Homo sapiens: one gene and its partners. The protein of the gene in region 3 interacts with the protein of the main gene of each other region in a biochemical or structural test. Each region holds a gene or a part of one and is shown on either strand. Other genes may lie near its edges.

Region 1 (3,658 bases), on a different chromosome or scaffold from region 3:
CTTTGTATCATTTAACCAGTAGCCAGTGTTAAGTCTACCACCTCTTATATCTGTTCCACAGAAAACACAAGGCCTTATAGTGATCAGGTCATTTTCCCCACCACAGATTACTGATACAGGTAATAGTTACTCAGTTTCCAACTGAGATTAGTATATTTGTCATGAAAATATAGAAGGTTGTACAAAATAGGAGTTGAAAGTCTTAATTCTGCTTTCTTCATATTGGAGCTTAATATTGGACCCTAGAAGATAGTCTCTAATGAGAATTGCTTTGCTTATTCCATGATAATATATCACACCAGGTTAAAAATTTGCGTAGAGCTGGCATTGTGCAAAGACAAGGACTTTGGGGTCAAGACGGGATTTGAATCTTTTTCTGCTCTCAATAGTGTGATGTTGGGCAAATATTTTCATCTGTAAAATAAGAATATTAATATCTACATTTCTAGGATTATTGTGAAGAGTAGAAATATTGTTTATTAATGACCTAGTTCAGAGCCTGTGTCTTTGTGTGCACGCTAATTGGTGGCTACATTTTAGTAGTTCTTATTTATATTATGTTTCTGAGTTTAAATAAAATTATTTCAAAATATATGATATAATCATAGATAAATAACAAATATGAGTAGAAACATGTAATTTTGTATAAGTTAAAGGCAATTGAAGAGGAGAGCAATCATTCATTCCTAATAAGAAAATAAACTAGCAATATTAAAGTGTGTCATGAGATACACTTATCACAAGAGGCCATGAACTAACAGGAAAAGAGATCCAGATTACAGGCTTATGCCACATGTATTACCCCAGATCACCCATGTTACGTAGTTTTAGTAACCATAATCTTATGTTAATATTGGTTCATATTTTCACAATATTTGACTTAGAGTCTCAGCATTTTTCTAATATGTGAGTGGCTGGAATTAAGAACTTTACTGCCTCTGTGAAATTGGAAGAATTTTCATATTGATTTAACGTGTAGGGAGTAGTGGCACTTGATGGGGATTATTATGGGACTTAGTAATAGATGGAATATTAGATTGATTTCAGCCACTTTACTCACATGGGTAAATAGTGAATTTTAAATTTGCCTATGAATAGTATTTCATTGATTCTAAGACTAATATTTTCATTTTATAATATCTCTGAAATTACGATGTATCTCAGGTAAAATTGGAAAATACAATTTAGTCGTTCATCAAATAAAGGTGCAATGTTGTCTTAGATTTTTTGAAATGTAATAATGTATATATTACCATCTACCAAAGATGGTGTATACTACCAACTCTGTGAAACAGATGTGAGTTTGAACAGAAGCAATAAAAATCAACATGAGATTAGAAAACTATCACTAGCTGAGGGGTATAGATCCCTGAGAACTTTATAGCACTGTTCTTTGATTTCTTGGTAACCTACAAGATTTTTCATCGTAAATTTTCTTTTGATTTCAGAGAATGGTTCTTTCTTTTGTCACATGAAGTGTTGAACCCAATGTATTGCCTGTTTGAATATGCAGGGAAGGATAACTACTGCTTGCAGATAAACCCCGCTTCTTACATCAATCCAGATCACCTGAAATATTTTCGTTTTATTGGCAGATTTATTGCCATGGTAAGTGCAGGTCAAGAATTATGTTTACTTTGCTTATTCAGCAATACTAAATTTTCTCTTAGGTGCCATAACAGATCATATGAGAGAAAGGGAAGTGGTTTTTTGTTTTGTTTTGTTTTTTATTTTTGAGACAGAGTCTTGCTCTGTCACCCAGGCTGGAGTACAGTGACACGATCTTGGCTCACTGCAACCTCTGCTTCCTGGACTCAGTCAGTTCTCCCGCCTCAGCCTCCCAAGTAGCTAGGATTACAGGTGTGCGCCACCATGCCTGGCTAATTTTTGTATTTTTAGTAGAGAAGGGGTTTTGCTATGTTGGCCAGGCTGGTCTTGAACTCCTGACCTCAGGTAATCCACCTGCCTCAGCCTTCCAAAGTGCTGGGATTACAGGTATAAGTCACCGTGCCCAGCCAGGGAAGTGTTTTTTTGAGACAAAGTTTCACTTTTGTTGCCCAGGCTAGAGTGCAATGGCGTGATCTCGGCCCACCACAACCTCTGCCTCCCAGGTTCGAGCAATTCTCCTGCCTCAGCCTCCCGAGTAGCTGGGATTACAAACAAGCATGTGCCACCATGTCCGGCTAATTTTTGTGTTTTTAGTAGAGATGGGGTTTCTCCATGTTGGTCAGTCTGGTCTCGAACTCCTGACCTCAGGTGATCCACCCACCTCGGCCTCCCAGATTGCTGGGATTACAGGCGTGAGCCACCATGCCTGACCCAGGGAAGTGTTTTTAAATGAAGAGTACATCTAATATATTGAAATAAAATGATTATTGTACAGTTATTTTAAGCGGTCTTGTTTCCTTTTTTCATAGGCTCTGTTCCATGGGAAATTCATAGACACGGGTTTTTCTTTACCATTCTATAAGCGTATCTTGAACAAACCAGTTGGACTCAAGGATTTAGAATCTATTGATCCAGAATTTTACAATTCTCTCATCTGGGTTAAGTAAGTTTCTTTTTCCATGTAATTTATTAAAATATAGTTATATGCATTCCGTGTAGTATTGATAACTTATCCAAACTGTAGGCACATAATTGGTTTATTGTATTTAAATGATCTATATATCAAACCTGTCTTTTTATTCAATATGATAAATTTTACAAAAATACACCCAAGATCTTCGGCAATAATATGACCTTAGAACAGAATCTTATTTCTTCTTATTTTGATGTTATAGCTTAATATTAATTATTTAAGAACATGGGCCTTTCGTTAAAAACTTATAAATTATGATTGAATTGGTGGATATAACAAATAGTGCTAATTTCATTTGTGCAGGGAAAACAATATTGAGGAATGTGATTTGGAAATGTACTTCTCCGTTGACAAAGAAATTCTAGGTGAAATTAAGAGTCATGATCTGAAACCTAATGGTGGCAATATTCTTGTAACAGAAGAAAATAAAGAGGAATACATCAGGTGAGAGTGCTCCTTTTCACATTTCACTTTTTGTTTGACTACAGCACATTGATAATTGCTTACTAATACTAATGGAGAGTATCTCCAAAAATAGTATTTGTCTCTGTACTAATCAATATCCTATGTAGGCAGTCATTTTTCATTTCTAAAAAGTTTTTTTTTAAGTGTTTTTAAAAGAGTTTTAAGGATAAAAGTCATGCAGGATCACTCTTTTAAACATCAACTCTGTAATCACTATGCTGTATAACATGTCATTAAAAAGAATCTCAAATATATATGCAGATATTTTCATGGGGAATATTGTAAGGTGTATTAATCCACTTTCCTGCTGCTGATAAAGACATATCCAAGACTGGGCAATTTATAAAAAAAAGAGGTTTAATGGACTTACAGTTCCACGAGGGTGGGGAGGCCTCACCCTCATGGTGGAAGGCAAGGAGGGGCAAGTCACATCTTACATGGATGGCAGCAGGCAAAGAGAGAGCTTGTACAGGGAAAACTCCTGTTTTTAAAACCTCATCATCGGCCAGGCATGGTGGCTCATGCCTGTAATCCTAGCACTTTGGAAGGCCAAGGCAGGCAGATCACAAGGTCAGGAGATTGAGACCATCCTGGCCAACATGGTGAAACCCC
Region 2 (3,658 bases), on a different chromosome or scaffold from region 3:
CACAGCCTTTTTTAATCGCTGTTGAAGAAACCTAGTATTTGAAAGATAAAAATAAAATAATAAACTGCTTAAAAGTATACTTGAGATTTAGGTGAGTTCTTTTACATGTCACACTATTCTAAAATATAGTATCCAGAAGAGTGCATATCTCATATAACTAATAATGTACATGTCTTTCAGAGTACTGTTAATGCATATATTTTGCTAGAGATTTTAGGGTAGTTGATAATGTTTGGTAAAATCACCAAAGAAAACATGTTACACTATCACCAGAAATAATCAAAAGGCCAAAATATGTTTGCAATACTAATTAGAATACGATATGCAATATATATATACCTCTATATATACACACATATACATACATGTATACATATTCTAATGTCTTTAAATAGTATGAAAAACCCTACAAATTATACGCCAGGTGCGGTGGCTCGCACCTGTAATCCCTGCATTTTGGGAGGCCGAGGTGGGCGGATCATGAGGTCAGGAGTTTGAGACCAGCCTGGCCAATATAGTGAAACCCCGTCTCTATTAAAAATCCAAAAAGTAGCCGGGAACAGTGGCAGGTGCCTGTAATTCCAGCTACTTGGGAGGTTGAGGCAGGAGAATCGCCTGAAGCCAAGAGGCAGAGGTTGCAGTGAGCCAAGATCAGGCCACTGCACTCCAGCCTGGGTGACAAGAGTGAAACTCAGTCTCAAAAAAAAAAAAAAAAAGAAAAGAAAAGAAAAGAAAAACCCTATAAATTATAAAGTTCAAAATTTCACAAAGTCCATATGACATAGAAACAAGGTAGAGATATATGTATACTGTTAAAGCTTGATAATAGGGTCATATTAGTTACATTATATATGTGTGTGTATATATTCATATATGGTATATATGATGTATAGCTATATATTCATGTATATCACATATGCATATAATAGTATATATGGATAGTGAGATCACATAACATCATAAATAAATATAAACTATTATACTATCAGCAGATGTTAGCTTTCATTCCTAATGATCTTAATGTAAAACCTGAATGAAATAGAAGTGTTTAGGTAGCTAAAAAACCACCTTTAAACTAATAGTAGAGTCAAAGTGTTATCAAAAATATAATGGATAGAGAAAGATATATTTTGAAATATGTTAAAATGTTGCCACAGTTTCAAATTAGAGAAAAAGACTAAATCATAAGTGAATTTTACATCAGAGTAGTGATCAATTCATTCCTGTAACTAATAAGAATCTGACCAACATTCCTGATGATATGACCAAAAAGCAACATTACCTTTCTTGATTTATTTCTTAAGAATGCACCACTATTTGAAAAAATGTCTTTCTTCAAAAAGCAAATGATGCCTACAATTTCTAATCTGCTCTAGGTCTTTCTGTCTTTTCTGAAAATGTTAAACATGTTTAAAAATATTTAGTTATATATTAAATTAAATATTAAATATTAAAAATATTTAGTTAGATAATACAGTATAATACACTGAAAGCTAGTTCTACTAAATGTTTAGTAAGAACTGAACCAATTTTTATATGACCATCTTTTCCAGTTTCAAGAGAGAAAAATAATTGGGTAGGATGAAGGGTAGCCACAATTAGCACAAAAGATAACAAACTCCTTTAAAATGAAATCAAGCTCAGGAGTTCAGAAAACAAAATCCTTCCTCATAAAAACAGATGAAGTTAAATATAAATTTAAGAGATTTTAGGCAGAAGAGAATGAGTAAGTATAAATCACTGGTAATTAAACAACTATTAATTGTATGCCAGGCACTGTGTTGGGTGCCAAGATTTGAATAGTGAGTGAACACAGCCATGGTCTCTGCCTTGGTGGATATTACAGTCAAGTTGAGAGGTGATGACAGAGCTGAGGTCTGCAACGTTAATACAGTAACTGTGGAAAAGGGAGCAAAGGATTTTATGAGAAAGTAATAAGACCGATGTGCTGAAAGGGAACAAAAAGGAGGATAAAATCCATTACCAAAGATATTTAAAGTGCTTAAAGTGTAAAGACCAGAAACAGTGATACTTGAGAAGTTTTGGTGCTTTCAAAACTGATCAAGGTGAGTAGATTACTCATCCTAATGGGCAAAATAGAAGTTAGTAATTTCACATGATGTCAGTAGCTATAATGCTTTAAGATGTAAGAGGCATATGTTAACTAGTTGCTATATGAAATACAGTGTGAGAAGTTATTATACTGTGCTGTATTTCTTTAGATTGTGTAATTGGTAACCAGAGACCAAATAGCAATACTTATTTTCTTTTAGAGTCTACTCCACTGAAAAGAAACAGAAGGAGGAGAAGCCGCTCTCAACATTAGTCTGGCTAAGAAGAATGAGAAATCTCTACAGTGGCACCACAGAAACACATTCATTAAATGAAAGGCAAATGACACACAGCATATTAATGCCAAATATTACTATTTATTTTTCCCTAAATAGTAACAATATATGTCCATCAAAGTCACAGAGAGTAGAAAATCTGAAATAAATTTAGTAAAACCAAATAGAAAAAAATTATCTAACCTTATGATGTCTTTGGCTTTACATCCTATATGTTTAAAATCAAAGTTAAGATGCAGTTCATCCAAAGGAAGATCCCATATTTTGCTTAATTTCCCCATTTCATTGGGAAAGGATCTTAGTTCCAAGTTGTAACTGACATCCAGAGATGTCAGATTTTCAAGACAGCCAATCTCAGGAGGAATCTTAATGGGAAAAAAAAGGGCAAAACCTGTTGGTGGGAAGGAAGAAATGTGCTCTGCCAAAAAACGTGATAAGAAACAAGAAAGGCTCACAGATTCCATCAGCAGCTTGCACAACCTTTCAACAGAGTTTTAAAACTTTCCAAAGGTTTGTCATAAGTTGTCAGTATGTGTTTAAAAACATAAAAACTTACATATAAAAACTTACTCCCAAACAATCTATGTCACTCATCTGTAATATTAAAAAACCCAATCTCCTTTGGTAACATACTTCATCTCTTCAAGACATTGAAAGTAAGGAAGTTCTTACCACAAAATGGATTTGGTTATCCATTATCTGTGACTTCATTCTGCTCCTTCAGTAAAGGCAAGAAGACCTAGTCACTACAAACCTGCATGCAATTTAGTGTTCTCAAAGTACAGCTACATGCTTATACTTTAGGTGGCATCCTAATTGGAGTAATTTCTTTTCTGTTCCAAATTTTTAAGCAATATATACTATATTTATAATAGAAAACACTCATTTGCTGGCAAAAAATCAGGTAGCAAAATATATGCACAGTTTTGCTGAACCTCACAGTGTCAGACACTTAATTCTTTTGGTTTTTGTAGGCAATACGCTAGAACTTGAAAAATAATATTTTCTGAGACAAACAAATTATCAATTTCAGATTTACAACAGAGAGAATGGAGCAAAACAAAAAAGGTTGATCCATTAGGGTGATAGCATGGTGGCGGAATGCAGAAATTTAAGAATGTACCAAGGAAAGCTGAAAAACAAGTAATACAGTATACAGGCCAGTAACAACTTGAGAAAAATGGTTTATTTAAGAGTCTGTTAACAGATTGGACAGAGATTTGGTGATACAATGACACACAGCATCACATTCATCTATAATTATGTATATATTCATATAATCCTTTAAAAGTATATCACAAAAGTAATTT
Region 3 (3,658 bases):
TTGTTAGAAATAATATCTTTTTTTCTTTTGGCCTAAAATTATGTAGAGTTAGGTCCCTAAACAAAATTCTTTGTTTCTCTTGTATTTCTTCTTGTTCTTGTCTTGATTTTTTTTTTTTTCCCTTCTTTGTTAGCTGTGTTCTATAATTATGAGAGTAGCACCTTTGAGGCATTTGATAGTTACCTTAGGGATATTTACTGATCACAGTAAAGCACCAAGGTACTGCCTGGGGAGTAGTTGAATAAAATAAAAAAACTTCAGAAGTAACTTTTATTGTTCTCTTACTAAATGAAGTGATGAGTTTATAGCCATCTTTTATCAGTTAGGATCAGTTAGCTTTTTTGTTGGAGTCAGTGCTTTTGATTACAAGTAATAGAAAATCCTGATAACTCTCTTTAAACTTCAGGGAAATTCATTATCTGTCATAATTAGTCCAAAGATGGGGTGGCTCAAAGCACAATATGCTCCTCTTCCTTCTGTCCTCCTTCATGTGTTAACTCTGTCCTCAGGGTAGTAACAACTAGAGCAGTTCCCACTATCATGTCTATATGTGGCTGCCTCGTGAAGAAGAGGTGCTCTCGTGCTGTGCAGCTCTGTAGGGAGTATGGAAACTTTTCCCACGTCTCTAATACCTTTTCTTGGCTCATTCACCAGAAGTGCCTCATGCCCTTAAACCAGCTACTATCAAGAAGCATGAGACTACCCTTATAAAACTTATACCAGCCAACAGCCAGGTTTTCGAGGTGTGGATGTTGATGAGAAGAGATACTTCAATAAAACACAGGTTCTGTTAGAAAGTATGGATGGGGCTGGGTGTGGTGGCTGACACCTGTAATCCCAGCACTTTGGAGACCAAGGCAGCTGGATCACTTGAGGTCAGAAGTTCGAGACCAGCCTAGCCAACATGGTGAAACCCCATCTCTACTAAAAATACAAAAATTAGCCAGGTGTGGTGGCGCATGCCTGTAATCCCAGCTACTTGGGAGGCTGAAGCAGAAGAATCGATTGAACTTGGGAGGCGGAGGTTGCAGTGAGTGGGGATTGCACCACTGCATTCCAGCCTGGGTAAAAAAGAGCGAGACTCTTGTCTCAAAAAAAAAAAAAAAAAAAAGCATGGATGGTTAGGAATGGATGTTTGATAGGCCCACAGCTGTTTCGGTCATGGTAAGAGATCTTTACTGAATTTTTTTGTGGATCACCTTCTGAGTTACATTTAGATGTTTTCTGCATCCTATATTTTAAAACCTTATTTTTTATTCATTGAGCCAGGATAGTGACAAGGACATGGATAAAAGGACTGAGCTATGGATAGAGAATTAGTTGGCACATACTGGTAGTGACTTGATTGTCAATGAGAAAGGGATTTGACATTCCTTATATTTTGACTGTTATGTAATGAATCTGGACTAAGTAAATGAATTTGTAAGCCTCTTGAAAACAATTTAATGCCTAAATTTCTTGTGAAAATTTTTTTTGATATTCAGTTTTTAAGCACTGGCATTCAGAAAATTGTTTTCCTTTCTCATTTTCAATAGAAGAAAACCATTGTTTTTTCTGTGTTTTATAAATATGAAGATGTTAAGAGAAAAATCAATCCCCATCTATATCTTACAGATTAATGTTTGTGAAATGACTTTTGCTGTTACATTTACACAATTATAGTTATTAAAGCTACATGTTTAAAACATGAATAATTATTGTATGTGATAAATGAAGATGTTTTACTTCTTATATATCTGAATTTAAGGACTTGACCACTTATGTTGTCTAAGGTTTTTCAATATTTTTGCTTAAAGTGAAGCCTTATGTAACTTAGGAAGAAGCTAATTGTATACTGAATGATATCTATGTCTTGCAGATATCAAACCTTCCAATATTCTTCTGGACAGAAGTGGAAATATTAAGCTCTGTGACTTCGGCATCAGTGGACAGCTTGTGGACTCTATTGCCAAGACAAGAGATGCTGGCTGTAGGCCATACATGGCAGTAAGTGTTAAGTCCAGGCCTTCTTGCTTGATAGTCATTGCACAGAGAGCCTGTGCTCTTTTGTGCTGGCCATTAGTCATACGGTTTTACCATGAAACTGCTAGAATATTTCCCTTACCCTAAGGCCCAAGCTCAGGTCCTAGCCTCTCCATGAAACTTTGCTAAATTATCCCAGTCAGCTCCTGTTTTCATTGTCTTGCTTTATTTCTCTTACTTGGTATTTAGCAGTTGTGGTCTTCTCTGATTATTGTTTTTTCATTATATTGAACTCAACTCATTAAACAGATGGTAACTTCTCAGAAAGTTCCCACCGTCCCTTAGTGAGACAAATGGGAAGCCTTGAGTTCATTAGCAGAATTCACTATGTATTACAGAGTCTGAAGCTGCATATTTTGAATATTGTTAGTCCTTTTTTTTAGGGGTAGATGAAGCACACCAACAAATGCAAAGGTAGAGGCCTTCAGTATTTTGCAACCTGGAGCCTCTTTTCCTGCAAAGAGACAGATGTACACTATCCATCCATAGATATCAAACTCATCTTACCCCAGTATATTTGCATACAGTGTTCCTACAGCCTGGATTTTGATCTGTATTTGAATGAAAATGTAGTGTCTGTATTTCAGACATTTCCCTAGGTGTTAATGTCTTTCTTCAATGTTGCCATGGTTCTTTGGGGACCAGCACACTACTAAATGTGACACATAAGGTTTTGTGGTTGTTTCTTGAGGCCTCCCTGCCAGCAGCATTTCTTTCCATCTTTGTAGACTGTTTTAAACTAAAGATAAGCTTAGAATTGAATAAAATTGTTCTTTCTTGGTTTCCTCCTTGATATATATGTTTTCAAACCTAGTGCTATAAATAATAAAAAAGTAAGAGTCACAGGCTAGATATTATAGGTGTTCTAGATTATTTATGAATGGATAGGCTTAGTGCTACTACAAATTCAACTTACTGCATTTTTCAATCCTCTTTTGGTTTTGTTATATCTTCCCATATCACTTTTTCTTCAGATGAACATGTAAAAGCGGTGTGTGTGTGTGTGTGTGTGTGTGTGTGTAGACACCTAACCTGTGTGGTAAGACCTTTTAAACTTTTGGTTTTGTGGATGTTGACTGGCTGGGCAGATTTCTTGACTCAGTTTGGAAGATCATTTGTTTATCGTGATAACTAGGGATAAATGGCACAATAGTTTCAAAGGCAAGAAATAAAAAAAATTAGACATGGAGTATTTGGGAAATGTGATTTACATATTTATTAAGGATACCCCGAGAATGAACTGAAATTGTTATTTACAGTTTTAGGGCTTGTCTCGATACTAACAGTGACTAAATGTTTTTGTTGTGTGACACTGACTAAGAATTATATTTGATTGAAGCAGGCTTTGAAAATGCAATTGCAGCCCAGATAAAGTAGAATATTTTGAATTCAGCTTTCTAAGAAAGACTCAGACTTTCTTTAAAACAGACTTTCGTCATTCTTGTGCAGAGATATGCTTTGCAGGCCCAGGAGATGTAAGACTTCTGTTTTCTTGCTGACCTTCATCTGTGGAACACAAAGGCTGATAAACTCTTGGCCTCTAATCTTTACTGGACCAGATGAAATTCTTCTGTCCATTCTCATCTTTCAAAGCCTGTTATAGATAGACAAGAACTCAATCAATGTTAATTTTAAA

What was found.
Region 1: the proteins of MAP2K4 (region 3) and ITCH form a complex in vitro, tested with the Homo sapiens proteins (one study listed by BioGRID).
Region 2: of the proteins of MAP2K4 (region 3) and LRRK2, one has a biochemical effect on the other in vitro, tested with the Homo sapiens proteins (one study listed by BioGRID).

What each region holds. Positions count from the first base shown.
Region 1 is NC_000020.11:34,478,182-34,481,839, forward strand, and holds part of ITCH (E3 ubiquitin-protein ligase Itchy homolog), read left to right. Parts: intron 1-1,448; coding exon 1,449-1,608; intron 1,609-2,417; coding exon 2,418-2,551; intron 2,552-2,884; coding exon 2,885-3,025; intron 3,026-3,658. UniProt on the Homo sapiens protein: Acts as an Acts as an E3 ubiquitin-protein ligase which accepts ubiquitin from an E2 ubiquitin-conjugating enzyme in the form of a thioester and then directly transfers the ubiquitin to targeted substrates.
Region 2 is NC_000012.12:40,304,840-40,308,497, reverse strand, and holds part of LRRK2 (leucine-rich repeat serine/threonine-protein kinase 2), read right to left. Parts: intron 2,714-3,658; coding exon 2,532-2,713; intron 32-2,531; coding exon 1-31. UniProt on the Homo sapiens protein: Serine/threonine-protein kinase which phosphorylates a broad range of proteins involved in multiple processes such as neuronal plasticity, innate immunity, autophagy, and vesicle trafficking.
Region 3 is NC_000017.11:12,111,375-12,115,032, forward strand, and holds part of MAP2K4 (dual specificity mitogen-activated protein kinase kinase 4), read left to right. Parts: intron 1-1,858; coding exon 1,859-1,986; intron 1,987-3,658. UniProt on the Homo sapiens protein: Dual specificity protein kinase which acts as an essential component of the MAP kinase signal transduction pathway. Essential component of the stress-activated protein kinase/c-Jun N-terminal kinase (SAP/JNK) signaling pathway.